Homo sapiens: one gene and its partners. The protein of the gene in region 1 interacts with the protein of each later gene in a biochemical or structural test. Each region holds a gene or a part of one and is shown in the gene's direction. Other genes may lie near its edges. The genes, in order: ACVR1B, OTUB1, CRIPTO, SMAD2 and NEDD4L.

Region 1 (5,782 bases):
GCCTGTAATCCCAGCACTTTGGGAGGCCAAGGTGGGCGGATCACCTGGGAGTTCGAGACCAGCCTGGCCAATGTGAAGCCCTATCTCTATTAAAAATACAAAAATTAGCCGGGTGTAGTGGCGGGCGCCTGTAATCTCAGCTACTCAGGAGGTTGAGGTAGGAGAGACTCCATCTCTACTTAAAAGAAAAAAAATTGTCTCATTAGCTCAAGACAGCAGGGTTTTTTTGTTTTGTTTTGTTTTTCTTTTTCTGGAAAAGGGCTTGAGAAAAATTAATTGGCTTTTTATTTTTATTTTTTTGAGAGAGGGTTTCTCTTTGTCACCCAGGCTGTATTGCCATGGCACAATCTTAGCTCACTGCAACCTCCGCCTCCTGGGTTCAAGCCAGTCTCCTGCCTCAGCCTCCCGAGTAGCTGGGATTACAGGTGCCCACCACCACTGCGGGCTGATTTTTCTGTTTTTAGTAGTGATGGGGCTTCATTGTGTTGGCCAGGCTGGTCTCGAACTCCTGACCTCAGGTGGTCCACCTGCCTTAGCCTCCCAAAGTGCTAGGATTATAAGCGTGAGCCACTGTGCCTGGCCTAAATTGGCTTTTTAAAACTATCTTTTTATTATGGAAAATCTTTCTAAGTTTGTAGTTCTTAAAGATGAGGACTTAAAAAAATGCAGTGCTATTACCACACTTTAAAAAATGAACATTAGGCCGGGCGCGGTGGCTCATGCCTGTAATCTCAGCACTTTTGGAGGCCGAGGTGGGCTGATCACAAGGTCAGGAGTTTGCAACCAGTCTGGCCAACATAGTGAAACCCCGTCTGTACTAAAAATACAAAAAAATTGCCAGGTATGGTAGCGTACGCCTGTAGTCCCAGCTACTTGGGAGGCTGAGGAAGGAGAATCACGTGAACCAAGGAAGTGGAAGTTGCAGCAAGCCGAGATCGTGCCACTGCACTCCAGCCTGGGCAACAGTGGAGACTCCGTCTCAAAAAAGGAAAAAAAAATGAACATTAGGGGTCAGGTGCGGTGGCTCGCACCTGTAATCCCAGCACTTTGGGAGGCTGAGGCGGGCAGATCACCCGAGGTCAGGAGTTCAAGACCAGCTTGGCCAACATGGTGAAACCCCGAATCTACTAAAAATACAAAAATTAGCCGGGCATGGTGGCAGGCACCTGTAATCCCAGCTACTCGGAGGCTGAGGCAGAAGAATCGCTTGTACCCGGCAGGTGGAAGTTGCATTAAGCTGAGATTGCGCCATTGCACTCCAGCCTGGGTGGCAAGAGTGAAACTCACACACACACACACAAATTTAGTGCTTTTTTTTTTTTTTTTTTTTTTGAGACAGAGTCTCACTGTCACCCAGGCTGGAGTGCAGTGGCGTGATCACAGCTCACTGTAGCCTCCACCTCTCCAGGCTCAGGGGAACCTTTCACTCCAGCCTCCTGAGTAGCTTGGGACTACAGGTGCACCACCATGCCCTACTAATTTTTGTATTTTTTGTGGAGACAAGGGTTTTGCCATGTTGCCCAGGCTGGTCTTGAACTCCTGTGTTCAAGCAATCCTTCCACCTCGGCCTCCCAAAGTGCTAGAATTAGAGGTGTGAGCCATTGTGCCTGGCAAACATTAATGTCACTTAACATCTAGTCAGTGTTGAGATTTCCCCAGTCTCCTAAATTTTTAAAGCAGTTTGTTCAAATCGGGGTTCCAATAAGTTTTATCCCCTGCAGTTGATGAATACACCTCCTACATTTCTTGTCTACATGTTCCCCCTCATTTTTTCTTCCCACTCTGTTTTTTCGGAGAATCCAGGTCATTTGTCCTGTAGAATTTCCCAGGCTAGATTTTGCAGATTGCTTAGGTAGAGTTCACATATTCTACTCTTCCTGGTATTTCCTATGAATTGGTAGTTAGATCTGGCAGCTAGAATCATTTCTGGGGGTTCGGGGACACGTATCCTTCACAGGGGTTCCTCTGTCCTTCTGTGACAAGTTGCGTAGCATTGGTTCTCTATTTTTGTGTCGTTAACGTGCCGTGGTGATATTGTCCAAAACTAAGCGAATGATTACTTCCCCTACATATGTATTTGGTTCCCATGATATATAGTTGGAATAGGAGAGGCAGAAAAAATACTTGATTCTTTCCACTTATTTACCATTTTTCAAAATAATGAGGTGGTTCTGTAGCCTCCCACAGAGGTAGGTGACTGAAATTTCCTTTTTTAGACTTTAAAAATATTTGTTTCCATTGAAGTTATTTGTCTTATTGTTACTTAAAAGTTCCCATCTTTGCTCAGTTGGGAGCTTATCAAGTTGGTGCCTTTTGATGTGACCCCCAGTAGTCTTTGATAGATTCCTTGCTTTGGCTATGAAAAAAAATGTTCCTGGCTACTCTTTTGTATTTCTTTTTGTTTAGTTGTTTTGTTTGAGACAGAGTCTTGCACTCTTGTCCAGGCTGGAGTGCAGTGGCATGATCTCTGCTCACTGCAACCTCTGCCTCCAGGGTTCAAGCTATTCTCCTGCCTCAGCCTCCCTAGTAGCTGGGACTACAGGTGTTTGCCACCATGCCTGGTTAATTTTTGTATTTTTAGTAGAGATGGGGTTTTACCGTGTTGGCGGGGCTGGTTTCAAACTACTGATCTCAGGTGATCCGCTTGCCTTGGCCTCCCAAAGTGCTGGGATTACAGGCATGAGCCACCATGCCCGGCCCCTTTTGTGTATTTCTTGTTCCATACTTAGAATTAACTAACTTTCTAAGGAACCTTAGGGGGTAGTGGTATTTACAGAGCACAGTGTAGGTTTTGTCACCGGCTTCTGAGTAATCTTTTCCTGCTGTTGATAACTCAGGTAGATACTTTCTTTTCTCCCAGGAGTCCATGAAGAATATCAGCTGCCATATTACGACTTAGTGCCCTCTGACCCTTCCATTGAGGAAATGCGAAAGGTTGTATGTGATCAGAAGCTGCGTCCCAACATCCCCAACTGGTGGCAGAGTTATGAGGTAAGAAGCTGGCCTCCTGCGGCTTTCCCATCAGCCTGATTTCTCCACCTTAGAAAAGGGTTTCTTGACAATGGGGTCAGGCCCCAGAGGAGCCCCCTGAGAGTGTCAGTTATTATTTACTATTACGTGCTATTTTACATATCCCAAGCCCTTTAGGGCTACAGTCTCTTGTCCTGGACCCTGTAGGGTGCCATTTGGAGTTCACAGCCTAGAAGAAGAAAAGGCTTTGGGCCTGGTGTGGTGGCATAGGCCTGTAATCGTAGCGCTTTGAGAGGCTGAGGCAGGAAGATAGCTTGAGCTCAGAAGTTCGAGACAAACCTGGGCAATGTGGGGAGACCCCATCTCTACAAGAAATAAAAAATTAGGCTTGGTGGCACACCACCTGTAGTCCCAGGTACTTGGGAGGCTGAGGTGGGAGGATTGCTTGAGCCTAGGAGGTCAAGGCTGCAGTGAGCCATGATTGGGCCACTGCGTTTCAGCCTGGGCAACAGAGCAAGACCCTGTCTCATAAAAGAAAAAGGACAAGGCTTTGTCTCCAAGACACAGATGAGGGAGGTGGTCAACAAGTGACAACTGAACCCAGAGCTGTTAGACACCAAACTAGGAAAGCAGCTCTGGAGCCCGAGCTGAGCTGAGCTCCATGGAAGAGTGAGGAGGAGGTGTCCATAAGAGAAGCCCTGAGACCAGACAGAGGAGGAGGACATGCCTGTGAGGAAAGTGGTCTTTCCAGAAACTCAGAAGGGAGGAGGTGATGTGTATGACAGGGCTGGGATTGGGATGGAGAATGTGAATTTGGGAGAGACGGCAGATGAAATCAGGGGTGTGGGGGAAACAACATTTGGTGGAAAGAGTTGACATGAGGACATGTTTGTGACATACGTACTAATAAACATGGAATTCTAGGGTCTTAAGAGTGTTCAGGGGAACAGGCTTCGCCTAGCTAAGTGCTCATGGGCCTCCTTTTCACTTGCGGTTCTGCATTTCCTTTTACTTATTTTTTTCCCAACTCTATCGAGGTGTGATTGACAAATGAAATTGTAACAAAGGTGTACAAAGTGCTGAATTGATACATGTATGTATTGTGACATGATTACCACACAAGTTAGTGAACACATCTGTCACCTCACCTTGTTGCTTGTGTGTGTAGTGAGAGCAGTTGAGACCTACTGTTAGCACATTTCAGGTGTACAGTATTGTTGACTCTAGTCACCTTGCCGTCCATTAGAGCCCCAGAACTTACCTAGTCAAGTAGAGAGGTTGGCTCTGCCTTTAACGAGTCTAACCACTAGAGGGCATTTCTGCATTTCAGAACAGAATTGCATATTAGCTGATGCTTTCGTGTTGCATCATAGAGCAGCACTTCTCACCGCACTCCTTGGAACCCTCAGGGCAGGGTTTGCTTCAGAGGGCAGGTGAGACCAAAAGAGCTGGCCGTTAGCTGCAGCGTTTGCCTTTCACTTGTGTAAGCTGTCCCTTAAAAAGGAAGAGCCGCCTGGCGCGGTGGCTCATGCCTGTAATCCCAGCACTTTGGGAGGCCGAGGTGGGCAGATCACAAGGTCGAGAGAGCGAGACCATCCTGGCCAACCAATATGGTAAAACCCCATCTCTACTAAAAATACAAAAATCAGCTGGGCGTAGTGGTGTGTGCCTGTAGTCCCAGCTACTGGGGAGGCTGAGACAGGAGAATCACTTGAACCCGGGAGGCGGAGGTTGCGGTGAGCCAAGATTGCGCCACTGCACTCCAGCCTGGGTGACAGAGTGAGACTCCTTCTAAAAAAAAAAAAAAAAAAAAAAAAAAAAAAAAAAAAAAAGGAAGAGCCAGGGAACAAAGGGAGCCTTGCAGAGCATTTCCCTAAGGTCGGCCGCCGGGTGGATGTGGATCTGCCAGACTGCACTGAGCGGGAGGTGGCAGGGAAATGAGTGAGAGCCTAGGGACCAGAAAGGCTTCTCCAGGGCATGACCGAGCTGATGGCTCCTGGGTCTCTGCACAGGCACTGCGGGTGATGGGGAAGATGATGCGAGAGTGTTGGTATGCCAACGGCGCAGCCCGCCTGACGGCCCTGCGCATCAAGAAGACCCTCTCCCAGCTCAGCGTGCAGGAAGACGTGAAGATCTAACTGCTCCCTCTCTCCACACGGAGCTCCTGGCAGCGAGAACTACGCACAGCTGCCGCGTTGAGCGTACGATGGAGGCCTACCTCTCGTTTCTGCCCAGCCCTCTGTGGCCAGGAGCCCTGGCCCGCAAGAGGGACAGAGCCCGGGAGAGACTCGCTCACTCCCATGTTGGGTTTGAGACAGACACCTTTTCTATTTACCTCCTAATGGCATGGAGACTCTGAGAGCGAATTGTGTGGAGAACTCAGTGCCACACCTCGAACTGGTTGTAGTGGGAAGTCCCGCGAAACCCGGTGCATCTGGCACGTGGCCAGGAGCCATGACAGGGGCGCTTGGGAGGGGCCGGAGGAACCGAGGTGTTGCCAGTGCTAAGCTGCCCTGAGGGTTTCCTTCGGGGACCAGCCCACAGCACACCAAGGTGGCCCGGAAGAACCAGAAGTGCAGCCCCTCTCACAGGCAGCTCTGAGCCGCGCTTTCCCCTCCTCCCTGGGATGGACGCTGCCGGGAGACTGCCAGTGGAGACGGAATCTGCCGCTTTGTCTGTCCAGCCGTGTGTGCATGTGCCGAGGTGCGTCCCCCGTTGTGCCTGGTTCGTGCCATGCCCTTACACGTGCGTGTGAGTGTGTGTGTGTGTCTGTAGGTGCGCACTTACCTGCTTGAGCTTTCTGTGCATGTGC
Region 2 (5,782 bases), on another chromosome or scaffold:
TAGACCACCCTGGTAAAGTGGACAGGACAGGCTGGGCCCCAGGTTCTTCCCACGGAGTCATCAAACATTTGGATGTCCAGAGCATGCTGTCTAAAAGGCCTCTCTGTGCCCCCAGCACCCGCATTCTGTATGCTGTGCCTGAGCCCACCTTTTCTCCCTGGGCAGAGACAGCTGTGGCAGCAGAGCCCAAGCAGAGAGAGCTCCTCTCTCTCTAAATGGGCTCTTGTGAGGATCAATTAGGATGACGTTTATTCGCCCTGTGCCAAATCCCTGGCACAGAGAGTGTGCTCACAATGGCCATGGTGGCTGCTACAGTAGCAGTGGTGATTTGGGTTCTTTGTGGTCCTGGTGTGCTACTCATTTAACGTTTATTGAGAACGGACTGTGGTCCAGGCGCTGTTCTAGGTACTGAAGATAGAGCCATGCAGACAAAGTCCTGCCCTCACAAAACTTACAGTTCAGGGTGGAAAGACATGATAAGCCAAAGAGGGCTCTGGGACATGTGGGGTATCAGAAGGCGGTGAGTGCTGTGGAGAAAAATGAAAAGGGGATCGGGGCCGGGCGTGGTGGCTCACGCCTGTAATCCCAGCACACTGGGAGGCTGAGGCAGGTGGATCACCTGAGGTCAGGAGTTCGAGACCAGCATGACTAACATGGTGAAACCTCGTCTCTACTAAAAATACAAAATTAGCCGGGTGTGGTGGCGCATCCCTGTAATCCCAGCTACTTAGGCTGAGGCAGCAGAATCTCTTGAACCTGGGAAGTGGAGGTTGCGGTGAGCCGAGATTGTGCCACTGCACTCCAGCCTGAGTGACCAGAGCAAAACTCCACCTCAAAAAAAAAAAAGAGGGGATTGGGAGTGGGAGCATTTGCCATTTTAAACAGGGCTTGGTGAAGGCCTTGCTGATGAGGTGGTATTTGAGTAATGAACAGAAAAAGACCGGGGAGCGAGTCACAGGCGTCCGAGAGCAGTGCCCACCCAGGCCCGAGGCGAGAGGGCACCTGGATGGTTTGAGGCCAGCATGGAGGCCAGTGTGGCTGGTGGAGAATGAGGGGTTGGGGCTGGGGAACTGAGCGGGGCGGGGCGGGGTGGGGTGTTGTGGCGAGAGAAAGGACTCTGAGGGAGATGGAGATAGGGTGCATCTGGCAGGTGACTCTGGTCACTTTTCTTTTTTTTTGAGAGAGAGTGTTGCCCTGTCACCCAGGCTGGAGTGCACTGGAGTGCAATGGCACCATCTCAGCTCACTGCAACCTCCACCTCCCGGGTTCAAGCAATTCTCCTGCCTCAGCCTCCTGAGTAGCTGGGATTACAGATGCTCGCCACCATGCCTGGCTAATTTTTGTATTTTTAGTAGAGGTGGGGTTTCACCATATTGGCTAGGCTGGTCTTGAACTCCTGACCTCAAATGATCCACCCACTTTGGCCTCCCAAAGTGCTGGGATTACAGATGCCCACCACCATGCCTGGCTAATTTTTGTATTTTTAGTAGAGGCGGGGTTTCACCATATTGGCTAGGCTGGTCTTGAACTCCTGACCTCAAATGATCCACCCACTTTGGCCTCCCAAAGTGCTGGGATTACAGGCCTGGGCCATCACGCCAAGCCGACCCTGGCCATTCTCTTGCTGGGGTGAGAATAAACTCCAGAGGGTGAAGGGGAGGCAGGGACACTGCCAGGAGACTTGTGCAGTAAAATCTGCTGGAGGCGGGCAGCGGGTGGTAGAGGTGAGGAGTAAGAAGCAGTTGGATACCAGACATATTGAAGGGATGGATATGGTGATGGAGTCGGCAGCGACTGGAAGGCTTTGGGTGCTGTGGGTGACTGAGGTGGGGCAGCCTCGGGGAGGAGCAGTTGTTCGGAGGTTGATCTCAGCTGCACTCAGTGGAAATGCCTGTTGGACAGTTCAGAGGAGGTGTGGTGAGGCTGGTAGATAGGAGGATCGTAATTGGAGTTGAGAGTTGAGATTCACACTTGGGGCTATTTAAATCCTTGAGACTTTGGCTAGGGGCAATGGCTCATGCCTGTAATCCTAGCACTTTGGGAGGCCAAGGTGGGTGGATCACTTGAGGGCAGGAGTTCAAAACCAGCCTGGCCAACATGGTGAAACCCCATCTCTACTAAAAATACAAAAAAATTAGCCGGGCATAGTGGCGCGCGCCTGTAGTCCCAGCTACTCAGGAGGCTGAGACAGGAGAATTGCTTGAACCCGGAAGGCGGAGGTTGCAGTGAACCGAGATCGCGCTACTGCACTCCAGCCTGGACGACAGAGCGAGACTGTCTCAAAAAAAAAAAAAAAAAATTGCTTGAGACTGATGTCGTCAAGAGAGCAAGTATAATTTACATTTTTGTAGAGATGAGGTCTTGTTGTGTTGCCCAGGCTAGCCTTCAACTTGATCCTCCCCCCTTGGCCTCCCAAAACACTGGGATTACAGGTGTGAGCCACTGTACCTGGCCATGAGAGTGAGTGTAGTTTCAAAGAGGAAGCTGGCCGGGTGCGGCACTTTGGGAGGCCGTGGCAGGCAGATCACATGAGCCCAGGAGTTCGAGACCAGCCTGGGCAATATGGTGAAATCCCGTCTCTACAAAAAATACAACAATTAAATGGGTGTGGCGGTGTGCACCTGTAGTTCCAGCTACTCTGAAATCTGAGGTGGGAGAATTGCTTGAGCCTGGTAGGTTGATGCTGCAGTGAGCCGTGATCTTGCCACTGCACTCCAGCCCAGGTGACATAGAAAGCCCTGTCTCAGAAAAGAAAAAAAAAAGAAAAGTGGAAGCTGTCCCAGGCCTGAGCAGGGCGGGGTAGGCACATGGGAGACAGCCCTCATGCCCGTGGTCACATGGCAGGCACAGTGGCTAAGTGTGCAGTGACTGTTTTCCTTTTTCCTTTTTTGAAACGGAGTCTCCCTTTGTTGCCCAGGCTGGAGTGCAGTGGAGCGATCTCGGCTCACTGCAATCTCCACCTCCTGGGTTCAAGTGATTCTCTTGCCTCAGCCTCCAGAGTAGCTGGAACTACAGGTGTGTGCCACCACGCCCAGTTAATTTTTGTATTTTTAGTAGAGACGGGGTTTCACCATGTTGGCCAGGATGGTCTTGATCTCTTGACCTCGATATCTGCCTGCCTCAGCCTCCCAAAGTGCTGGGATTATAGGCGTGAGCCACCACACCCAGCCTCAGTGACTGTTTTCTTGCAGGTGACACACCATGTCTCGAAGGGTGCTGTATGGTTTGGTGGCATCCCTGACCCTCAGAGCTTAGAGAGATGAGGAGTGGCCTTGGAGGCAGGAGGAAGACAAGGAGAGGGTGGGGGCGCCAGCCCAGGGAAGGAGGCATCTAGGCAGGGCCACAGCCAGTGGCCTCAGTTCTGCTAAGGGGCCAGTGGGGGTGGGGCGCTGGGTTTGCCCCCTCTGATTGAGGGCGTTCAGCTGACCTTGGCTAGAGCAAAAGCCTCCCGAGGGAGAAAAGAGGTGGAGGCAGCACGGACAGCTTCATGAGGAGTTTTGCTGTAAAGAAAGCAGAGAAATTGAAGGGTAGCCAGACAGAAACGTAAAGTCCAGGATTCCCTTCCTTTTAAAGAAGTAGCTGAATGTGTATATGCTGTTGGGTCTAAACCAGTAGGGTGGGAAAAATTGATGATGGGGGTACTTCCTAGGATGATGTCTTTTTTTTTTGAGATAGGGTCTCACGCACTCTGTCACCCACGCTAGAGTGTAGTGGTGCCATCACAGCTCACTGTAGCCTCGACCTCCTGGGCCCACACAGTCCTCCGACCTCAGCCTCTCGAGTGGCTGGGACCACAGGATGCACCACCATGTGCAGCTCACTTGCTTATTTTTCAAGATGGAGTTTTGCTCTGTTGCCCAGGCTGGAGTGCGATGGCGCAATCTCGGCTCACTGCAACCTCTGCTTCCCGGGTTCAAGCGATTCTCCTGCTTCAGCCTCCCGAGTAGCTGGGATTACAGGCATGCACCACCATGCCGAGCTAATTTTATATTTTCAGTAGAGATGGAGTTTCGCCATGTTGGTCATGCTGGTCTCGAACTCCCGACCTCAGGTGATCCAACCACCTCAGCCTCCCAAAGTGCTGCGATTACAAGCGTGAGCCATCGCGCCCAGCCACTTATTTTTTTTAGAGAGACGGGGGTCTCACTGTGTTGCCCAGGCTGGTCTCGAACTCCTAGGCTTAAGCGTCCTCCCACCTTGGCCTCCCAAAATGTTGGGATTATAGGTGTGAGCCATGGCGCCCAGCTTGGAATGATGTGCTTGAGCCTGAGGGTGGGGGTGGGCTAGTGTGGAGTGGAGAGGCAGCTTAGGTGGCAGCTGGAACAGATCCTCTGAGGATTGTGGGAGGAGGCCAAAGGCAGATGTGCTGGTGGGGGCTGAGGAAAAAAGACAAGGTCATCAGCTGGGGGTAGGAGCAAGATGGGTAGGGGAGAGGGGAGGGTGCCCAGGCCAGGGGAGTGAAGTGTGCTTGCCAGGTGAAGTGTGCGTGGTGGGTGGGCACCTGTAATCCCAGCTACTTGGGAGGCTGAGGCAGGGGAATCGTTTGAACCCGGGAGGTGTAGGTTGCAGTGAGCCGAGATCGCGCCACTGCACTCCAGCCTGGGCAACAAGAGCAAAACTCTGTCTCAAAAAAACAAGTAGAGGAGGGAGGCTGTTTCTAGCCCCAGGAGGGCTGCGGGCAAGGCTTAGAGGTGGGGGAACTCTTCTCAGTGTGGCGGGAGCGGGGCTGAGCTGGGCTGTGCAGAGGGCCCCAGCCACCTGGTTGAGGCGTGGAGGCCAGCACTCCACCCTGGCCCTGACTTGCTTGCCCTGAAGTTCTCTTGGGCTGAAAGACTGGAGGAAACGCATTGCTCAAGGACATTCACTCACCTGTTGTTGTACAGTCCTGTAGGCCCCGCAGAACTTTAGTGACCCATGCAACTAGTTTGTCCTTAAGTGCCCAGCTTCCTGCCGTCTTTTGGGAGGACTCTGGGCAGTGGGCCGCTCCCATTGCCACATTCAGCAGCCTGTTTCAGGGACCCAGGGTGGCAGGTGGCTGCTGGGAGCTCAGTTGCCACCTTTGGAGTGTGACCTTTGCTGGGGGACATTTCCTTGGCCAGCCCCCGTTCTGGCCTGATGTTAACCTGTCGGGGTGGGGCTGTCTCCGCAGGACCTCCACAAAAAGTACTCGTACATCCGCAAGACCAGGCCTGACGGCAACTGTTTCTATCGGGCTTTCGGATTCTCCCACTTGGAGGCACTGCTGGATGACAGCAAGGAGTTGCAGCGGTGAGAAGGGTGGGCACTGGGCACCGAGGCAGGTGGGTGTCTACCTCCTCCCCGGGCGAGTAGGATGTGTCTCGAGTAGGGTGTCTCCCTCCTTCCCGGGCGATGGGCTGGACTCTGGCCTTGCCAGGCGGGGCAGTGCTGTCTCGGCCCTGGCGTCTGGGCTGGTCGAGGAGCCCATGCTGGGCCCGCCTTTCCATCCCACCCCCAGGTTCAAGGCTGTGTCTGCCAAGAGCAAGGAAGACCTGGTGTCCCAGGGCTTCACTGAATTCACAATTGAGGATTTCCACAACACGGTGAGCCCTGGTGCCTGTCTTGGGCTGGGCCATGGGGGAGGGGTTCACCTGGTGAGGACCACCCATCTCCTCCCCGTCATCTTGCCCTTTCTCCCTCCGTGGCTGCAGTTCATGGACCTGATTGAGCAGGTGGAGAAGCAGACCTCTGTCGCCGACCTGCTGGCCTCCTTCAATGACCAGAGCACCTCCGACTACCTTGTGGTCTACCTGCGGCTGCTCAC
Region 3 (6,416 bases), on another chromosome or scaffold:
CACAGCCCTTCCCTTCCCCTTCTCCCCACCCCCCATCCCAAAACCTGGCCCAGGCTCTGAATACCCTGGATCCACTTGGCTTCCTCTGCAGTCAGTACCTATGGGGAATGGGAATCTCTTCAGGGGGTTCTGGTCCTTAGAGAAGGGATTTTGTGTGGCTGAAAAGCTGGCATCCTGGGGTTCTGGTCCCGTCAATGACAACATCGCCAGACTGGAGACCTCAGTTACTTCCTCTGAAAATGCAGTGATTTCCAGGGGTCCTATTTAAGCTCTAAAAATTCCACAAGAGCTTTAGATAAGGAAATAGCAACGCAGGGGTGTGTTCTTTTGCCAGTTCTGCCACAGGCCTGCCCAGTCTCTAAAGACAAGACATCCAAATCCCCCAATAGAACTAGTTGTCTTGTCCATAAAGTGAGACTAATATTGTGGGCGCTACTTATCTACTTAGCACCTTGGACTGGTGAGGACTGTGGTGCACAAGCTACCTTACAAATGTACCACACTGAGTAACATCTTTAAACCTCCTTGCAGCTCCAGGGCTAGCCTTCTCCTTTGCGGAGCCCTCCCCCACCTCCGGCCTCCTAGAGCTTCAGGCCATGTTCCCCTGTCCCCTGTGAATCTCAGCATGCTACCTGAAGCATTTCACCTGAAAAGGCCACACAGGGAGGAGGCGAAGCGCAGCAGGAATGAAATAGTCAACTGCTGTGGAGTTGGAAATGTTGCTGCATCCCACCATTGACTGGATGGGGCCTCACTCCCCCAATACAAATTATTTTACGTTTGCTTCTCCCAAGATCATGTGTAAGGCCGGGCGCGGTAGCTCATGCCTGTAATCCCAGCACTTTGGGAGGCCGAGGCGGGTGGATCATGAGGTCAGGAATTTGAGACCAGACTGACCAACATGGTGAAACCCTGTCTCTACTGAAAATACAAAAATTAGCCGGGCGTTGTGGCGGGCGCCTGTAATCCCAGCTACTCAGGAGGTTGAGGCAGGAGAATGAGGCAGGAGAATCACTTGAACCCAGGAGGTGGAGGTTGCAGTGAGCCAAGATCGTGCCATTGCACTCCAGCCCGGGTAACAGAGGGAGACTCTGTCGCAAAAAAAAAAAAAAAAAAAAAAAAAAAATCATGTGTAGAAGTAAATAACACCTCTTCCCAGCACCTGTGGATCCATGGCATTCACACAGGTAGGCACTGACGCTGAAATGGCCTCAGATGCTACCAATTCTTTCTGCCGAGGCCTAAATCCAATAAACAGAGATGGATGGAAACAACTATCTAATAAAAGTTTCGCATTTGTGTGCCTGGCAACATTAAGTAACCGTCAGGCTTTCCTTTAGAAATTGGAATTAAATGCGATTTAGAAACTATTAACGACTTTGGGCGTATTTAATAACACATGAAATAACCCGGAGGATTGAAATGTTAGGTGAGGCGACTCCGGCTCATAGACGCGCCTCTCCATCTGGGGCGTCTGGCACTTAGTGGAACCACTCAATAAACACGTTTACCCCTGCAAGCGGCACATCAGAGTCCGGGGGTAATTCTCGGTGTCGTGGGGCCAGGACGGCGAGGGGCTGGAAGAGGCCGCCCTGTGGGAGCTGGGAGGCTGAGATAAATTCCCGTGATTGGGGGCTGAAATGGCCTCCCATGCCGGACTGCCGTGGTTCTAGAACTTTTTCCTGGAACAGGCCGGCACTCCCACTGGAGAGTCCCAGCTGCTGCGCCTCTGGCCGCCCCTCCCCTCTCCCGGGCACCTGGCGCCGGCTCCCGCGTCCTTTCAGGAATTCACGTCCGCCTGGAATTTGCACTTCAAGTCTGGAGCCCCCAAGGAACCCCTCCTGACCCTGAACTTCTATCTCAGTTTCAAGCTTCCTAGTCTTCCCCACACACACACACCTAGCTCCTCAGGCGGAGAGCACCCCTTTCTTGGCCACCCGGGTATCCCCCAGGGGGAGTACGGGGCTCAAAACACCCTTCTGGAAAAACAAAGGTGGAAGCAAATTTCAGGAAGTAAAACTTCCTGAAATAAAATAAAATATCGAATGCCTTGAGACCCATACATTTTCAGGTTTTCCTAATTAAAGCAATTACTTTCCACCACCCCTCCAACCTGGAATCACCAACTTGATTAGAGAAACTGATTTTTCTTTTTTCTTTTTTTTTCCCAAAAGAGTACCTCTGATCATTTTAGCCTGCAACTAATGATAGAGATATTAGGGCTAGTTAACCACAGTTTTACAAGACTCCTCTTCCCGCGTGTGGGCCATTGTCATGCTGGTGGGCGTCCCGCCCACCTGAAAGGTCTCCCCGCCCCGACTGGGGTTTGTTGTTGAAGAAGGAGAATCCCCGGAAAGGCTGAGTCTCCAGCTCAAGGTCAAAACGTCCAAGGCCGAAAGCCCTCCAGTTTCCCCTGGACGCCTTGCTCCTGCTTCTGCTACGACCTTCTGGGGAAAACGAATTTCTCATTTTCTTCTTAAATTGCCATTTTCGCTTTAGGAGATGAATGTTTTCCTTTGGCTGTTTTGGCAATGACTCTGAATTAAAGCGATGCTAACGCCTCTTTTCCCCCTAATTGTTAAAAGCTATGGACTGCAGGAAGATGGCCCGCTTCTCTTACAGGTATGAGCTAATCTTGAATGTGAACTTTTTTTGATTGCTAGAGATTGCCAGCTTAGGAAGTAATGTTCTACACCTGTCATTTGATTTTTCTCTTGCTCAAGCCTTAAAAGAGCTGCCAACCGCACTGCTGTTTTTCCTGAAAGACCTGGAATTTCACATGGTTACTTCTAACTTTGCCATTGGCTTTTAACATTTTCGTGTTAATGTTAATTTTCATTTTATGTTAATGACTCTGCCTATGAAATAGTGTTTCTTTATTCTTGTACAAATAAAGGTCAGTACTACAACCAAATTTAAAATCTTCCGAAAAGATTAAAGGTATAAGCAGATTCAATACTTGGCAAAACTATTAAGATAATAGCAAAAAAAAAAAAAAAAACCCACATTTTTTACCTAAAAACCTTTTAAGTGATTGGTTAAAATAGTTTGGCCGGGTGCGGTGGCTCACGCCTGTAATCCTAGCACTTTGGGAGGCAGAGGCGGGTGGATCACCTGAGGTCAGGAGACCAGCCTGGCCAACATGGCAAAACCCCGTCTCTATTAAAAATACAAAAATTAGCCAAGCATGGTGGCGGGCACCTGTAATCCCAGCTACTCTGGAGGCTGAGGCAGGAGAATTGCTTGAACTGGGGAGGGGAGGCAGTGAGCCGAGATCGCACCATTGCACTCCAGCCTGGGTGAAAAACCGAAACTCCCTCTCAAAAATAAATAAATAAATACAGTAGTTTGTAAAATGATTCATCGGTAACATGGGATGCAGCTATTTTTTAATCCTTATATGAAAATTGTATGCAGGGGAAAACATGTGAAATAGAAGATAAAAGACATATACCTACTTAAAATTAGGTACTTATGTGAGGACAGGGCCTAAGAAATAATAATATATATTAAAAAGACTTGGATATTGGTGACTTTTTTTCAACATTTTTCTTTGTTACATGAATTAGCCATTAAAAAAAGAAAGATGGTGCTCTACAATTTCTTTTCAGTGATCTGTGGTCTTGTCCTTGTGATGAGAGGACCTGGGTGTTAACTTGTAAGGTTTTATTTCCTTTGTTTGGCTAACTCATGTCTGACTTCCTCTTCCTAGTGTGATTTGGATCATGGCCATTTCTAAAGTCTTTGAACTGGGATTAGTTGCCGGTGAGAGACCTTTTGTTCTTTTGATCACTCTCAATTTTTATGTGGCCTAAAATACAGACTCCATGAATTGATTTTGTCGTTAAGGGCTGGGCCATCAGGAATTTGCTCGTCCATCTCGGGGATACCTGGCCTTCAGAGATGACAGCATTTGGCCCCAGGAGGAGCCTGCAATTCGGCCTCGGTCTTCCCAGCGTGTGCCGCCCATGGGGATACAGCACAGTAAGAACTGCCTGACTTCGATGCTTCTGCCCTGGCCCTTCATGTGTCTCCTGAGTATCTTTCCAACACTCTTTCACCTAAAAGGGCACCTGGTTCTGGAACTGTGCAGGTGCTGGACTGCTTTTGGTTTTGGAAGTGAGACAAGGATTGTGTATTTTACTTCCCTAGAGTGCAGTTTTCCTCCCCTGAGTCCACTTCACACTGGGGAACCCAGAACCACCACTGGCCTATGCATGAAAATGACTTCTCTGCTCAAAGGCACAGAGACTTACTCTGATACAACACATTGGTGTTGTATTAACCTTCGCTTACAGGAATTGCCCTTGCACTTTTCCATCCCTACACCCTCAGTCATCTGTTCTTACCTTTCAGGTAAGGAGCTAAACAGAACCTGCTGCCTGAATGGGGGAACCTGCATGCTGGGGTCCTTTTGTGCCTGCCCTCCCTCCTTCTACGGACGGAACTGTGAGCACGATGTGCGCAAAGAGTAAGCAATTCAGAGGGGCGGGGAGCCGTGGAGAGGAGAGAGAAAGGGAAGTGGAAATTTCAGACCCAAGGCTATCGCCTTACCTGTTCATTCTCAGGAACTGTGGGTCTGTGCCCCATGACACCTGGCTGCCCAAGAAGTGTTCCCTGTGTAAATGCTGGCACGGTCAGCTCCGCTGCTTTCCTCAGGCATTTCTACCCGGCTGTGGTAAGCGGAGGTTCTCCTCTTTCTTTTGCCCTTTGAAGTTACGTAGTTGCCTTGGGGGGTGCTTAGTTAGCAGGCTCTCCTTGTACCTCTTGTCTTGCTAGAGCCTGGCAGCCAAAGTTCTGCTTATAAAAGCATCGCAGACTCCTGATGAGATAGTTGCCTTGGCCTCTTTGATATTTATTTCCTCGGGAACCTGGCTAGTCCTGCTGCCTTTCAGATAGAGATGTATTTCAAGTCTATTTGACATTTTATGGTCTGAACTTCTATTGAGGAAAATAAACAAGTCTCGGTCTCTTGTTAAACCAAGAGATGTTCTCTGGTGTTCCTTTCCTTTGGGTAGGGGGACCCAAACCAGGATGGGCAGCTCATTTAGAGCCCACCCTGACGACAAATTCTATCAGAGGCTTGGCCCCTTGCTAGTCCTTTAGAAACTTCCAGAGTCCTAAAAGTCCCTGGTAACCCCCTCCCCATACCTTACCATGACTGGTCACAGAACCCTTACCATGACTGGTCACAGAACCCTTTCACCTTCTTGATTTTTACTGATTTGAGGAATACAATGAAAAGAAGGGCAGCACCTGGAGAGGAAAAGAGGCGACAGTCCTCTCTCCACCCTAGCCTGAGCCAGGTTTCTAGGGCCCCCCAAATTCAGAGACCTATTATAGTTCTGGGCCTTGGAGATGTTAGAAATGGAAAATATTCAAGTCCAGGAAGTAAATGAAAGCAAACATTTCACTGAGAACAGGAAGGAATTCCCCAATCCAGACAGGGATTGTGTCTTTGCCATTTGCATCCTGGGTGTCAGGCTCAGGATAGGTGTTTGATAAGTGTGGGTTGGGTGATTGGATGTGTAGGGAACATGTTCTCTTCCTGGAACATGGGGCCCAATCAGAATCTAACCAGGTTGTGCTCATTCCTGCAAGTGAAGGCATCACCACTGGGCTAGGTTCCAGGTGTGAGTGTCCTGAGAAGAGCAGGTTCACAGTAGCGTATAGATATGCCACATTTGTGGGCAGCAGGATGAACTGCCAGAGAGGTTTGCTTTAATGACCAAGCATCCCTACCTTCCAGATGGCCTTGTGATGGATGAGCACCTCGTGGCTTCCAGGACTCCAGAACTACCACCGTCTGCACGTACTACCACTTTTATGCTAGTTGGCATCTGCCTTTCTATACAAAGCTACTATTAATCGACATTGACCTATTTCCAGAAATACAATTTTAGATATCATGCAAATTTCATGACCAGTAAAGGCTGCTGCTACAATGTCCTAACTGAAAGATGATCATTTGTAGTTGCCTTAAAATAATGAATACATTTCCAAAATGGTCTCTAACATTTCCTTACAGAACTACTTCTTACTTCTTTGCCCTGCCCTCTCCCAAAAAACTACTTCTTTTTTCAAAAGAAAGTCAGCCATATCTCCATTGTGCCTAAGTCCAGTGTTTCTTTTTTTTTTTTTTTTTGAGACGGAGTCTCACTCTGTCACCCAGGCTGGACTGCAATGACGCGATCTTGGTTCACTGCAACCTCCGCATCCGGGGTTCAAGCCATTCTCCTGCCTCAGCCTCCCAAGTAACTGGGATTACAGGCATGTGTCACCATGCCCAGCTAATTTTTTTGTATTTTTAGTAGAGATGGGGGTTTCACCATATTGGCCAGTCTGGTCTCGAACTCCTGACCTTGTGATCCACTCGCCTCAGCCTCTCGAAGTGCTGAGATTACACACGTGAGCAA
Region 4 (5,782 bases), on another chromosome or scaffold:
TTTTCCTTGTTGTGAAAAATAAATGCTGTATACTCATAATGTAGGCATTGCATGGTGTGCCACATCAAGAGCTTGTGTGCAGTAAAACCAGCTTTCTCTCTGGTGGTTTAAGTGCCGACACATTTAAGTGCACAGGCTTCACTGCTTCTAATAGATCCTGGTGATGCTTCAGCTGCAAACTCTTCAACTTTTATTTGGCACCCTTGGTACTGGAAAGTTCTTCAATAAATATGTGTTAAGATAAGTTTAATTTGCTGAGTCTCTACCAGTCATAAAATTGCCATGTTCAGATTTGGGGGTTAATACTTTTTTATAAATCATGTTTTTTTGTTTTGTTTTGTTTTTGTTTTTTTTCAGTTTCTTTATATAGCTCCCAGGTTTTTTCCCCCTTTGGTGAGTTTATATATTAAATGAAATCTGCTTGCTGTTCATCTGAAATGAGATATCTAAAACAAGAACTGCATTTAATATAGTTCAAAATATAATTCAGGGACATCTCAAAATGTGGTCTGGGGACTTCTGGTAGTCCCAGAAACCCTTTCAGCTAGTTTGTGAGGTCAAAGCTATTTTCATAGTAGTACTGAGATGCTGTTTGCCATTTCTACTCTCATACTCTCATGACTGTACAGTGGAGTATTCCAGAGCCTACATGCATATGATTTTGCAAGAGATGAAATGTAGATTTGATAATGAGACTCCAATTCTGTTACACTAGACATGAATGTTGAAATGTTGCCACTCTATTTTTTTTTTTTTTTTTTTTTGCTTTGGAAATATAGTTGTTTTTCATAGACAAAAATGGTGAAATGTTGCCACTCTATTTTTTTTTTTTTTGCTTTGGAAATACAGTTGTTTTTTATAAACATTGTTAATATGTAATGGATTTGATTTTTAAATGAATTTTTTAAATCTCAGTTTTTATATCTAATATGGTCATTTTCCATAATATTCACATAAACAAAAGCTCTTTGGGGTCCTCAGTATTTCCTTAACGATGAAGTGAAAAAGTGTGAGAACCATTCATAATTGAACATCATTCTCATCACCTTAAAGTAACTTCTTTTAACAGTAGTTTGCTTCTGTTTTTTTTCTAATTAACCATTACCTCCTGTGAGAAGTAATGCTGGTTATCAAAGTGTGATTTTGATACTGCAAAATGATAGTGACTAGAAGATCTATTACTTGGTTCCAAGTGGAAGTTCTCAAATCTTGCTTGATGTATAAATTTGGATAATCTTATTAAGATACCCAGTGTCGCTGTAGGTGCTTTAACTAAAATAGTTTTTTGTTTTTGTGACTTAATTGGGGTTCTGCAAAAAAATTTAATGGGTTTTCTCTGCCTTATTCTCTTCTCCCTCCAAAGTTTTAGATTGCTGTCGTTATTGGATTTTTTTAAATTTTTTATTTCTAGTTTTATAGGTGATATTGATCAGGGAATATAGCCTGAAAAATCTCTACTTTTTGGACTTAGTGTTTTCCCAATGACCACGTGCATGACTGTTTTACAGATATTCCATAGTCTTAACAGAACCACCGTACCAGGTTCTGTATTAAATCTGGAGTGTTAGTTGTTTGATTAGTTTTCTTTTGCTGTGTAACAAATTACCACAAACTCAGTGGCCTAAAACATCAGTTTTTTACCTCACGGTTTCTGTGGGTCAGGAGTCCAGACATGGGTTAGGCGGTCTTTTCAGGGTTTAACAAGGCCAAAATTGAGGTATCAGCTGGCTTGTGTTCTTATCTGGAGCTTGAGGTCCTCTTCTAAACCCACATGGTTGTGGCAGAATTCAGCTCCTAGATGCCTCCTGAATTCCTTGTCACATGGTGCCATCCATCTTCAAAGTCAGCAATGGAGAATGTCTCTTGTGTTGAATACCTTTCATGCTTTGAATCACTTAGCCTATGACAGTCTAGTCCCTTTTAAAGGATTGCCTGATTAAGGTTAACTGATTTGCTGCCTTAATTACATCTGAAAAAATCCTTAACAGCAGCACCTAGTGTTTGATTAACAGAGAATGTATGTGCACCTCAGGGCTGAGACTCTTAGGTGTCATGTTAGAACTCTGCTTCTCACAATTTTTTTTTTAATTCTTATATCTCATATTATTTTGCATCTGTGATCTCTCAGATTCTGAAAGAAGTATATTAAAAATCTCCCAGTAGAATTTTTTCTCACCTAATCATGCTTATACATCTAGAGGTTGGGTTTCCACCATAATATATAGTTTTTAAAATGGCAAATGACTTTTTGATGTTTTTACATCTTTTTTCTTAACATTAAGTGGGATCTCTAAGAAACTACAGTTGTAATGAAGATATATTTCTCCAAACATTAGTGAATTCCTTCAAAATTAACTCAATCTTTTACTTATCTTAATATATATCATTTGTATGAAACTATTTTACTATGTGTACTTTTTCTACATTGTTTAAATACTTTCAGTCAGTACACATGTATTTTAAAATCAATAAAATTATTGTTAGAAAATACTTGGGAGAAATATACAGTAGTATATTTAAAGTTAGACTTCAGAAAGACATTATCTGTGAAAAAGATCCTGGAAATACCTTATATCATTTTAGAATTTTTCCAAGAAAATGCTTCCAAAGTCACACTGAAATAGTAAATGTTACAAAACTAATCTCATTTGTATTTTGTTTCAGGAAGAGGAGTGCGCTTATACTACATAGGTGGGGAAGTTTTTGCTGAGTGCCTAAGTGATAGTGCAATCTTTGTGCAGAGCCCCAATTGTAATCAGAGATATGGCTGGCACCCTGCAACAGTGTGTAAAATTCCACCAGGTATGGATTCAATAATGTACATAAACCTATCATGTCAACTTGCTTAGTTTTTCTTGTTGCTAATTTTAGGAATCAGTAGATGATTGCATGCTCATATTCTAAAACTTGTAACCCTTTTAAAATTACTTTTTAATAATGATACTCTTTTGACAATTTCTTTTACCTTTTTTAATCATAGGCTGTAATCTGAAGATCTTCAACAACCAGGAATTTGCTGCTCTTCTGGCTCAGTCTGTTAATCAGGGTTTTGAAGCCGTCTATCAGCTAACTAGAATGTGCACCATAAGAATGAGTTTTGTGAAAGGGTGGGGAGCAGAATACCGGTATGAAATACATATTTGGTTCTTAAATTTCCACAGTGTAATTATGTTTCATTGCATTCTTGCATATTCTGGAGTTCATTTGTATCTATTTTCAATGAGGTTATAGAGTCAGCTGATCTTTATGTAAAATAAAGTTGGAGGCCTCCAAATTCAAAACTGTTGCAAATTACTGAGCTGCCATTATGGAAGATATTAAAACATGCACAGGCGTGCATTTTAACGTAATTCAGAGTGTTAAATATCATAAAAGGGGTGTATATGAAGGGTTATGTCAGTTTATGGAAGGAGAGATGTTTGCACACGGTGCTCAAGGAAAACTTGATGGCACATGATCTAGTTGTAAAAGGTGCATTGGATTTCAATAGTCATAAATGGGGTGGGCAGAGTTGGGAAGTGATAATCTTGACAATAGCATAGCAATTCAGTTTGGAGAATAGAAAAATAAGGCTGGACAATTAAATTGAGACAAACTAGATGTAGGTTAAGAGGAGGAACTTCATTCAGAAGTAGAAGGAATACTTGCTAATGTGCCAGGCACTGTGCTGTTTTAAGTGTAGTATCTAAAAATTATTATTTCTGTTGTCAATTCATTCTTTGTAAGGTTGAAATATATGAAATTGCCATCGTTGCAGGTAACACATGGTTCAAACTAATACATATTTGGAAATAGACATAGAAAGCTGATAATTTGCCCAAGGTTACATTATAAGTGGTTGAGATGGGACTGGAAGATAGTTCTCCTGGACTCTTTACCTCTTTTATAAGGATAGTAGTAACAATTATGTTTAAGTTTTACAAAAACTAATTTGTCATCAGTGGATAAGATAGTCTAGATTATTGATGAATTAAACAATAGATTGGATTTCACATCAAAGAGAGAGAAGACTTCTTGACCATATTTAAGAGTAGGAATTAAGTAAAATACTTAGTCTTTCTTCAATTCGTATTGCTTACTCCATATGCCTGCTTAAGAAATATTCATGTAATATAGTGATTGTATTCCTGCTTCTTCCAGCAATTTAGTCCCTTCCAAATTTATTTGTTTTGGACTTGCTTGTCTATCTTAAGTTTTGTCAGAAATCTGATTTGAGATTGTGCAATGTGAGGTCTACTTGTTGAATACATTTAAAAATATATGGTATATATTTGTATCAGAGAATGAAGACTTGTCACTATTTTTTTCTGAGTTATATTGGTAGAATAATTCATTTTGTGATTTTGCTGTAGTTCTGTTTTGATTATTACCCTTTTGAGATGTTGTTACCTGTTAAGAATGCTGAATGCCGTTTTTTAAAATTAGACTTGACCTGAGTTGATAGCAAAATTAGATTTAAATTATATTGTCTAATAAGATTTCAGGTCAGACTTTTTTTTGTTCTTCAGAAGGTTAGAATAATGCAAAATATGGTAGGAATTTAGTGGAAGTAAGAGTGAATTACAGAGAGAATTCCATGTGTATCTATAGATCTGCTAAGAACAGTTTTACTTGGTAAAGATACTGCCCTTCTTCATTCACTGTGGACTCTGCTGTTCTTTAACTCACAGATAAAGTAAAATCTGTAATTACAGAAGCAGTAATATGCAGTATGTTTTTATGAGTATTGGGAGTCAGGTACATCTGACTTTGGAAAATCAAGTAGTTTCCTGTAACATTTACAAATCAAAATGGCAAATATCCATCTATCTGTGGATATGTGGGTAGCTACCAGGAACTTACTGTCTGTAATCATTCTGGAGCTGAGGAAATAGACCTAATGTTTAGGTTTCTAAAACTATTTTTTTTAAATTTCCTTAATGTCATCTTGGTTGTTAGCACAAAAATGAGGAAATGTAGTAAACAGGAAATTTAGATGTATGAAGAATTTGTATTTAATCGAGTGGCAGCCTTCTTAAACCTACTCCCCTTGGGTGACCTGGATTATGGATTATTCTAGAAAGGGAAGTGGGACAGGGGAGAACAGGGCAGCCAGGACCATTGTTAAGCCATCTACCAGAGTGGGTGGGTCACTAGAACTGACACCCTTGGGGAAACTCTAGGAAACAGTAAACAGTCTACAGAATTATCCTACCCAGGGGAACAGAAGTGCTGGGCATGTAAATGTCAATTTCTGTTTCCTTGGTTGAGGGCTGCTCCTGGGGATGCTTCTTTCCTGGCACCTCTAGCCTTTTTGGGTATATCAGAGAAGTTCCTGGGCACAGAAATGCAGATACCTGCAGTTGGAAGTTGTCTAGAGCACACTGAAAAATCCAAAGGGTACAGTGGGGCACTGATACCATCTGCCTCAGAAAGTGACATCCTTGGAAGTACAGTTTTAAATTACATTGAACATGTGTTGCTTGGAGATGAAGAGTTGATAATGGGCTTTTCTCATATTTGAAGGGCTGTTAGTTTGTAGAAGCAAGTGGATTTATTGACTTTATTCTGTATAGCAAATAAGATGGAACTAAAATCAGCGCATGGAAGTGACAGGATGTCATTGAATAATTTGTAATTCTCTTAGAGTTGCCCCTTTTGTTGAAGCACTATTAAAAGCCCGAATGGTGTTGCTAAGAGGGATGTTCATTGGCTTTGGCAGGGAAAGTTGAATTCCAGCTTTTAACACTCTCTGTGGTGTGGGTTTAGCTTGGGCCAAAATTTTGTTTTTGCTTTGGTATAC
Region 5 (5,782 bases), on another chromosome or scaffold:
TCCTTAGCAGTTTTCTCTTCAATTTTCTCCATCACTATGGTTACACCTCTAGGGAGGGGAGAGAAGCGGCTGCAGCTCAGACCCCCTCTGGTGGCCTGGGCTCCATTGCCATCTCTCCCTGCCTCCTCCCCTCAGCTGGTTCCTCCTGCCCGGGAACATCTCTGGATGGGGCACAATGTCTGCTCTCATTTAGGGGTTTTGGTCTCTGTTCCAAAGTCCTGATTCAAGAGCTTGCGGGTAACTGCTATTGAAATGATTCTTTGCCTTCAAAACTCAAATGATCACTGAAAATTCCACAGTTTTCTTTGTGAGTCATGTCCCCTGGTAATGATGATGACTGTGGTCATCACCCAGTCTCACTCTATGGCTCTCACATAGCAGTGTCTGCTACCCGGAAACCATCTCTGCACATTCATTCTTACAGCCAGACCAAGCCTGGACCGCCTCTTTGCAGGAGGCAGTTGCCACAACCTTGGTCAAGTGTTTTGTTATTTTCATGTCAGCGAACCATGCTTTGGGCTGCTTTCCCCACACTTGGCATAATCAGGATCCCACTCCCCATGGCAACAAAATGGACTTGAGGCAGCGTGGATTATATCTACCACCTGGCGGCCCTGCCACAGTTGAGCATGGATAGGCCCAACCTGGCCAGGTGGGGATTATTACAGGTTTTGACTACCTGGGCTAAAGTCTCTTGAGTGAAGCAACAGATACAGTCGACTGCCTTTCGGTTGCCCTATGCTGGAGAAGTGCCCACAGTTGTTTATTAAAGGGGGCAAGGAGGATGTTCTCCTTCGCAGCAGAGTTCTAACTTTCCTGAGCATCGCTAGTGGATGCCGTGTGTCCCATCGTGACACAGCAAGGCTTTCTGTCTGCAAGGGAAAACCCCTAAAGGAGAGAATCTCAGTTGGAACCATTTGTCACTGCCTGTTTCTTTGAGGACTGCCAACTTTTCTACCATTTGCTGTTGTTTTTATTAGAAAACAAAGTGTGTATTTACTGTATGATTATGTGTTTTCTTTTGTCTTTTGTGTAGGCTGATATCCCCAATAGGTTTGAAATGAAACTTCACAGAAATAACATATTTGAAGAGTCCTATCGGAGAATTATGTCCGTGAAAAGACCAGATGTCCTAAAAGCTAGACTGTGGATTGAGTTTGAATCAGAGAAAGGTCTTGACTATGGGGGTGTGGCCAGAGAATGGTTCTTCTTACTGTCCAAAGAGATGTTCAACCCCTACTACGGCCTCTTTGAGTACTCTGCCACGTAAGTATATGGCCACACCCAGTGTGTGTCCCCCACTGAGACAGTTGTATGAATTTAAACAGAATGAAAGGATAAGCAGCTCATGAGTTCGAGATGCATTAACTCTGCTGAGTTTGTTCTCTCCTCACCCCACAGCCCCTTGCAAGTCTAGAACAGGTTCTGACTCTACGTGGTGAAATAGTGTACTCTGCGAACATCTAACATTGATTTTTTTTCTTGTCTATTGGGTTCATGGAGTTGAAATTGAAAACGTGGATAATTATGATAAGGAACAGGAGGCGATTTTCATTTGCAGTGTTCAAGAGGAGGACTTGTCAGTGTTAGAATTCAAAAACAAAGGAGGTGTTTTTTGAACAAGAGTCGTTTCTGAGGTCTCCTGTGTAAAGGCAAATTGTAAGGACTTTGAGGACCTAGGACCATGCCCTGCTCCTGTAAGGAAAGAACCAGGTTTCCCCTTGCATTAGGATTTCATCATTGCCAGGCTTGGAAACTGAGGCAGACTAAATTGCTTTCTGAGCAATTAAACATCAGCTACTTCCAGGCCAGCCATTCCTCCTTCAGACTCTGAATCCTCCAAGGGTTGGGCAGTACCCAAGCCCCCAGTAGAATAGTCATTGACCTTGCTGAAGGGCATTTGTCATCACTCCAGCCCTGGGCTCTAAGGGGACGTGGGTTCCCCCACATCTCCCACCTGGTACCAGTCTCCTGGGGGCTCATTTGGAAGGCCGCCTCAGTACATTCTTCCTGGTTGCTCTAGCCAAGAATTGCCCAATTGATTTGTTGTTACTGAGTCCCATGAGAAAGCCCACTATGTACAATGTATCCAACTATTGAAGGTGGAGGGCAGGGTGGAGAGAGACAAGATCTTTACCTCTTCTCCACATTTTCAAAGATACCCCCACCCCGGAGGAATCAGTCTGTGATCCCAGTTTGAAAACTACTGATCCACATGATTGTGAACCAAGCAAGATCATTTGGACAAATCTAAAAATTTGCAGGTTTGCATCATTGAGAGAGCCATATCCTGTTCCTAATCCCCTCGAGGCCTTTTCAGAGCAGAGTAGTGGTCAGAAGACAGACCAAGGGTTGGGCCCATAGCAAACATCTTATGGCCAAGCCAAAAGCCTCTGGAAGGAATTAAACTTCCTTCATCACAGAGACGACCTAAAGTACTCACATCTTTGGGAATCCCTGCACAGCCCCTTTATTATGTGGCGTTTCTCATCTCCCCAAGATATTTGGCTGAACCATATGAAATAGACACTTCGTAGGTCAAAAACAGTCAAACATCAGCGTCTCTTATGGTTTAATTGACTTTAGAGGGCACATGCGTCAGCCTCCATGGTGGGTCACGGTTGAGCATGTGGTAAGTCAGGTCCTCTAGCCCACACATTTTCCCACTAGGTACAGAATGCTCGCAGGGACACTGTAAAAGTTGAGTGACAGGTGGCAAACAAATATGCAAAATCTTGCATTTGAAAGTGTGATTGGGCTTTTCTTCTCTTTCTCCTCAAAAGGGACAACTACACCCTTCAGATCAACCCTAATTCAGGCCTCTGTAATGAGGATCATTTGTCCTACTTCACTTTTATTGGAAGAGTTGCTGGTCTGGCCGTATTTCATGGGAAGCTCTTAGATGGTAAGTCTTGAAGTAATAAAAATAGGTCAGTGCTGCTTGCGGTTTGCTAGTAGGTGTCTTATCTTTCGCATCATGGGTTTTTAAGCAAAAGCTTCACTGGTTTACTCATAAAGTATTTTTATGTTTTGCCCATAATGGATGTCCTTTTCTCTGGTAGCTTATTTTGGGCACTGAAGACATAGTGTCTACACACAGTTAAAAACAAAAGTTTTTTTTTAACTTCAGTGTAAAACACAGAACATTATGTATTTATACATTTGTATGTTTTCTGGAATAACTTTAGTGAAAGCAAGATTTGATAACAGATGGAAAAACTAATTGAAAAGTTAATTAAAATGATCTCATCTATCTAATATCCTGTGATTATTGCGTTTGTCCCCAAATTATTTTTTAATTTGAAGGGACTAAATAATTTCAAAATAATGTTACTGCTTAGCTAAGACATTAACCCTGAAACAAATAACACAAAATAATTTCATTCTTATTTAAAGCATATAGATCATGGAAGAATTTCAAGGTACCTTGAAAGTTAGAAGTCAAACCCTCTACCTGGCGGTATCTATAGGCTTAGAGACTTCTAAAAGATTTGGCCAATTCAAAATAGTGTCCTTAAGAAAACACTACAGAAATCATCAGTGAGAAAAAAGCATCAGAAATACTTTTTAAGAGCCTGGAGGTAGAGTGGTTGAGGATGGGAAGAGGGAGAGTAGGATTTGAGATTGACATTGCAGTAACTTATAAGAAAGATATTTCCAAGGGAACTGTGTTCATTGCATTTATAGAGCCTTAGCTATTCTAATAAATAATTTGTATACCCTCTGTACTTTTCCCATGAATATGTTTTTACTGTTAATTGGTAGCTGATATTGATGCTCTGATTTTGTTGCTTTATTTGGTAGCAGGGCGACAGTAAACACTTTTTTTCCTCTAGAAGGAAACTAAACCACACACTCTTTCCATGTATGTATAGTGTGAATATATTTTAATTTCCAGCTTTGGAGTCATGCCATAGATTGTTTCAGCCTGCTCCAATTCACTCCAACTTTCTCAGAAGGTCAGTTTAGTCACCGTATGCAAGTGAGAAGATGCTGTTAGTTGCTACAGTGTCTTTAATACCCTCTCTAACAGGGGGTAATAGAGAAGCATAAGATATGATCCTGACCTTAGTCAGCTTATATTTTAGCGGGGGGAAAAGAGATGAGAACAAAACCAGAAGAATCACAGTGATAGTGTCTGAGCAGAAGGGAGTGCATTGAGTCCTCAGAGGAGAAAGTGACTTGGCTGGAGGCTCAGGGAATCTTTCCCAGGATGAGCTGCACCTCGGAGGTGGGGTAGCATTTGAGCGTTCAAAGGCTGGGGTCATTTCAGATGAGTGAGGACCAGCCCAGAGTCAAGGCCTTGTGGAAGAAGATGGGCGGAAGCAGGAACCACTCAGGGTCTCAAGGAGCTGGCTAAAGTGACCCCGACAAGAGTGATCACGATATAAACCTGGAATTGCACATTTAAGAGTCCAAGTGCACATAGATGGGCCTAGTCAGCAGTGTCTTCAAATTTCCCACAGATGGGAATGTCCCTGTCGGCAGGGCTCATTCTGCACATCTGTCCGATGGGAATGTCCCTGTCGGCAGGGCTCATTCTGCACATCTGTCCGCTGCTCCCCCTGGTCGGCTTCATGCTTTTACTTCCCCAGACACTGGAGTCTATTGGAGCCTGCATAGGGCCACGCTGAGCCGGGGAGAATTGGCCTGTACTGCAGAGGGTGGGTGCCTGGTGGGGGGATGAAGGAGCAGAAGCAGGAGCCTGGGGTGCCAGGTCTGGTGGGGTCAGGACCCCCTGTGAGGAGGTGCGTGATGCCTTTGGATCAGGTGAAATGGAGGCACCTGCAGGACGCCTGAATGGTGGGAGGCCGACCTCGCTGCTGTTGCCTCCCTGAGGCCTCTGCCGTCCCTCCGCGGGGGGTTGCACAGGCCCTCTCCGGGGCCTTCCCCATTTCCAGCCTGTCCCCTTCCTGTGCTTTCTCCCCATCGCTGCCCAAGCAATGATAACAGAAGACAGATGGAATTTCACCTGGCCTTTCACTGACTCCCCACTGCCCTCAGAGAGCACCCCAACTCTCCAGCACCCCATGTGGGCTCTGCACTGCCGGCCCCTTCTCTGGCCTGTCTACCCGCCCTGGCAAACGGCTGGCAAGTCCCCAGCCTTGTTCCTCTGCTTAGTGTGCCCTTTTCTCCCCCAATTCCTACGCCTGATTTGCACTGCGGACTCTGCTTGACCTTGAAGCTCATCTGTCACCTCCCAGAGGCCTTTCTGGCCCCACTCTGCTGCGCCATCTCTCTTAGCACAGCTGCCCTCCTCATGCCACTCTCCCCCTGATCTCGCCTCCTCGCTTGTGCAATACTGTAGAAGGCCCTTGGTTACTCCTTCATGGTTTCTCATTTACATTGAAAGCAGGTTAATCTTTTCTTTCATGCTCTGATACATAGCAGTGTCAAAGACCTGAAACTAAACCCAGTGTTTACCGTGTTTTAGGTTTCTTCATTAGACCATTTTACAAGATGATGTTGGGAAAGCAGATAACCCTGAATGACATGGAATCTGTGGTAAGTAAATGCACGTCACACACTGGCCATCACCGGGCACTCGTGTCTTATGAGAAGGTATTGGAGAGCCATATTTGTAGTCTCAGCCACTTTTATGGGTGTTGCATTCCATGTGAACAACAGGAGACATTTAATTGCTTGAAAAGTTCATTGATCTAATTCTTGTAATAAATCATTGTTCACATTTCCTGGAACCATGGTACCTAGGGTGGATACATCCAAATCCCAGTTGCCTCTGCTTACCCGGCATAGGACTTGTGTGAACTTACTAAATCCA

What was found.
Region 2: of the proteins of ACVR1B (region 1) and OTUB1, one has a biochemical effect on the other in vitro, tested with the Homo sapiens proteins (one study listed by BioGRID).
Region 3: the proteins of ACVR1B (region 1) and CRIPTO form a complex in vitro, tested with the Homo sapiens proteins (2 studies listed by BioGRID).
Region 4: of the proteins of ACVR1B (region 1) and SMAD2, one has a biochemical effect on the other in vitro, tested with the Homo sapiens proteins (one study listed by BioGRID).
Region 5: of the proteins of ACVR1B (region 1) and NEDD4L, one has a biochemical effect on the other in vitro, tested with the Homo sapiens proteins (one large-scale study listed by BioGRID).

Annotation. Positions count from the first base shown.
Region 1 is NC_000012.12:51,989,003-51,994,784, forward strand, and holds part of ACVR1B (activin receptor type-1B isoform a precursor), read left to right. Parts: intron 1-2,860; coding exon 2,861-2,991; intron 2,992-4,982; coding exon 4,983-5,108; 3' UTR 5,109-5,782. UniProt on the Homo sapiens protein: Transmembrane serine/threonine kinase activin type-1 receptor forming an activin receptor complex with activin receptor type-2 (ACVR2A or ACVR2B).
Region 2 is NC_000011.10:63,991,381-63,997,162, forward strand, and holds part of OTUB1 (ubiquitin thioesterase OTUB1), read left to right. Parts: intron 1-5,149; coding exon 5,150-5,268; exon of another isoform or gene 5,269-5,476; coding exon 5,477-5,561; intron 5,562-5,669; coding exon 5,670-5,782. UniProt on the Homo sapiens protein: Hydrolase that can specifically remove 'Lys-48'-linked conjugated ubiquitin from proteins and plays an important regulatory role at the level of protein turnover by preventing degradation.
Region 3 is NC_000003.12:46,575,383-46,581,798, forward strand, and holds the start of CRIPTO (protein Cripto isoform 1 precursor), read left to right. Parts: upstream 1-2,405; 5' UTR 2,406-2,587; coding exon 2,588-2,622; intron 2,623-3,712; coding exon 3,713-3,765; intron 3,766-3,849; coding exon 3,850-3,984; intron 3,985-4,356; coding exon 4,357-4,471; intron 4,472-4,568; coding exon 4,569-4,678; intron 4,679-5,749; coding exon 5,750-5,868; 3' UTR 5,869-6,416. UniProt on the Homo sapiens protein: GPI-anchored cell membrane protein involved in Nodal signaling. Cell-associated CRIPTO acts as a Nodal coreceptor in cis. Shedding of CRIPTO by TMEM8A modulates Nodal signaling by allowing soluble CRIPTO to act as a Nodal coreceptor on other cells.
Region 4 is NC_000018.10:47,842,683-47,848,464, reverse strand, and holds part of SMAD2 (mothers against decapentaplegic homolog 2), read left to right. Parts: intron 1-2,664; coding exon 2,665-2,802; intron 2,803-2,980; coding exon 2,981-3,125; intron 3,126-5,782. UniProt on the Homo sapiens protein: Receptor-regulated SMAD (R-SMAD) that is an intracellular signal transducer and transcriptional modulator activated by TGF-beta (transforming growth factor) and activin type 1 receptor kinases.
Region 5 is NC_000018.10:58,364,963-58,370,744, forward strand, and holds part of NEDD4L (E3 ubiquitin-protein ligase NEDD4-like), read left to right. Parts: intron 1-1,036; coding exon 1,037-1,266; intron 1,267-2,783; coding exon 2,784-2,905; intron 2,906-5,434; coding exon 5,435-5,505; intron 5,506-5,782. UniProt on the Homo sapiens protein: E3 ubiquitin-protein ligase that mediates the polyubiquitination of lysine and cysteine residues on target proteins and is thereby implicated in the regulation of various signaling pathways including autophagy, innate immunity or DNA repair.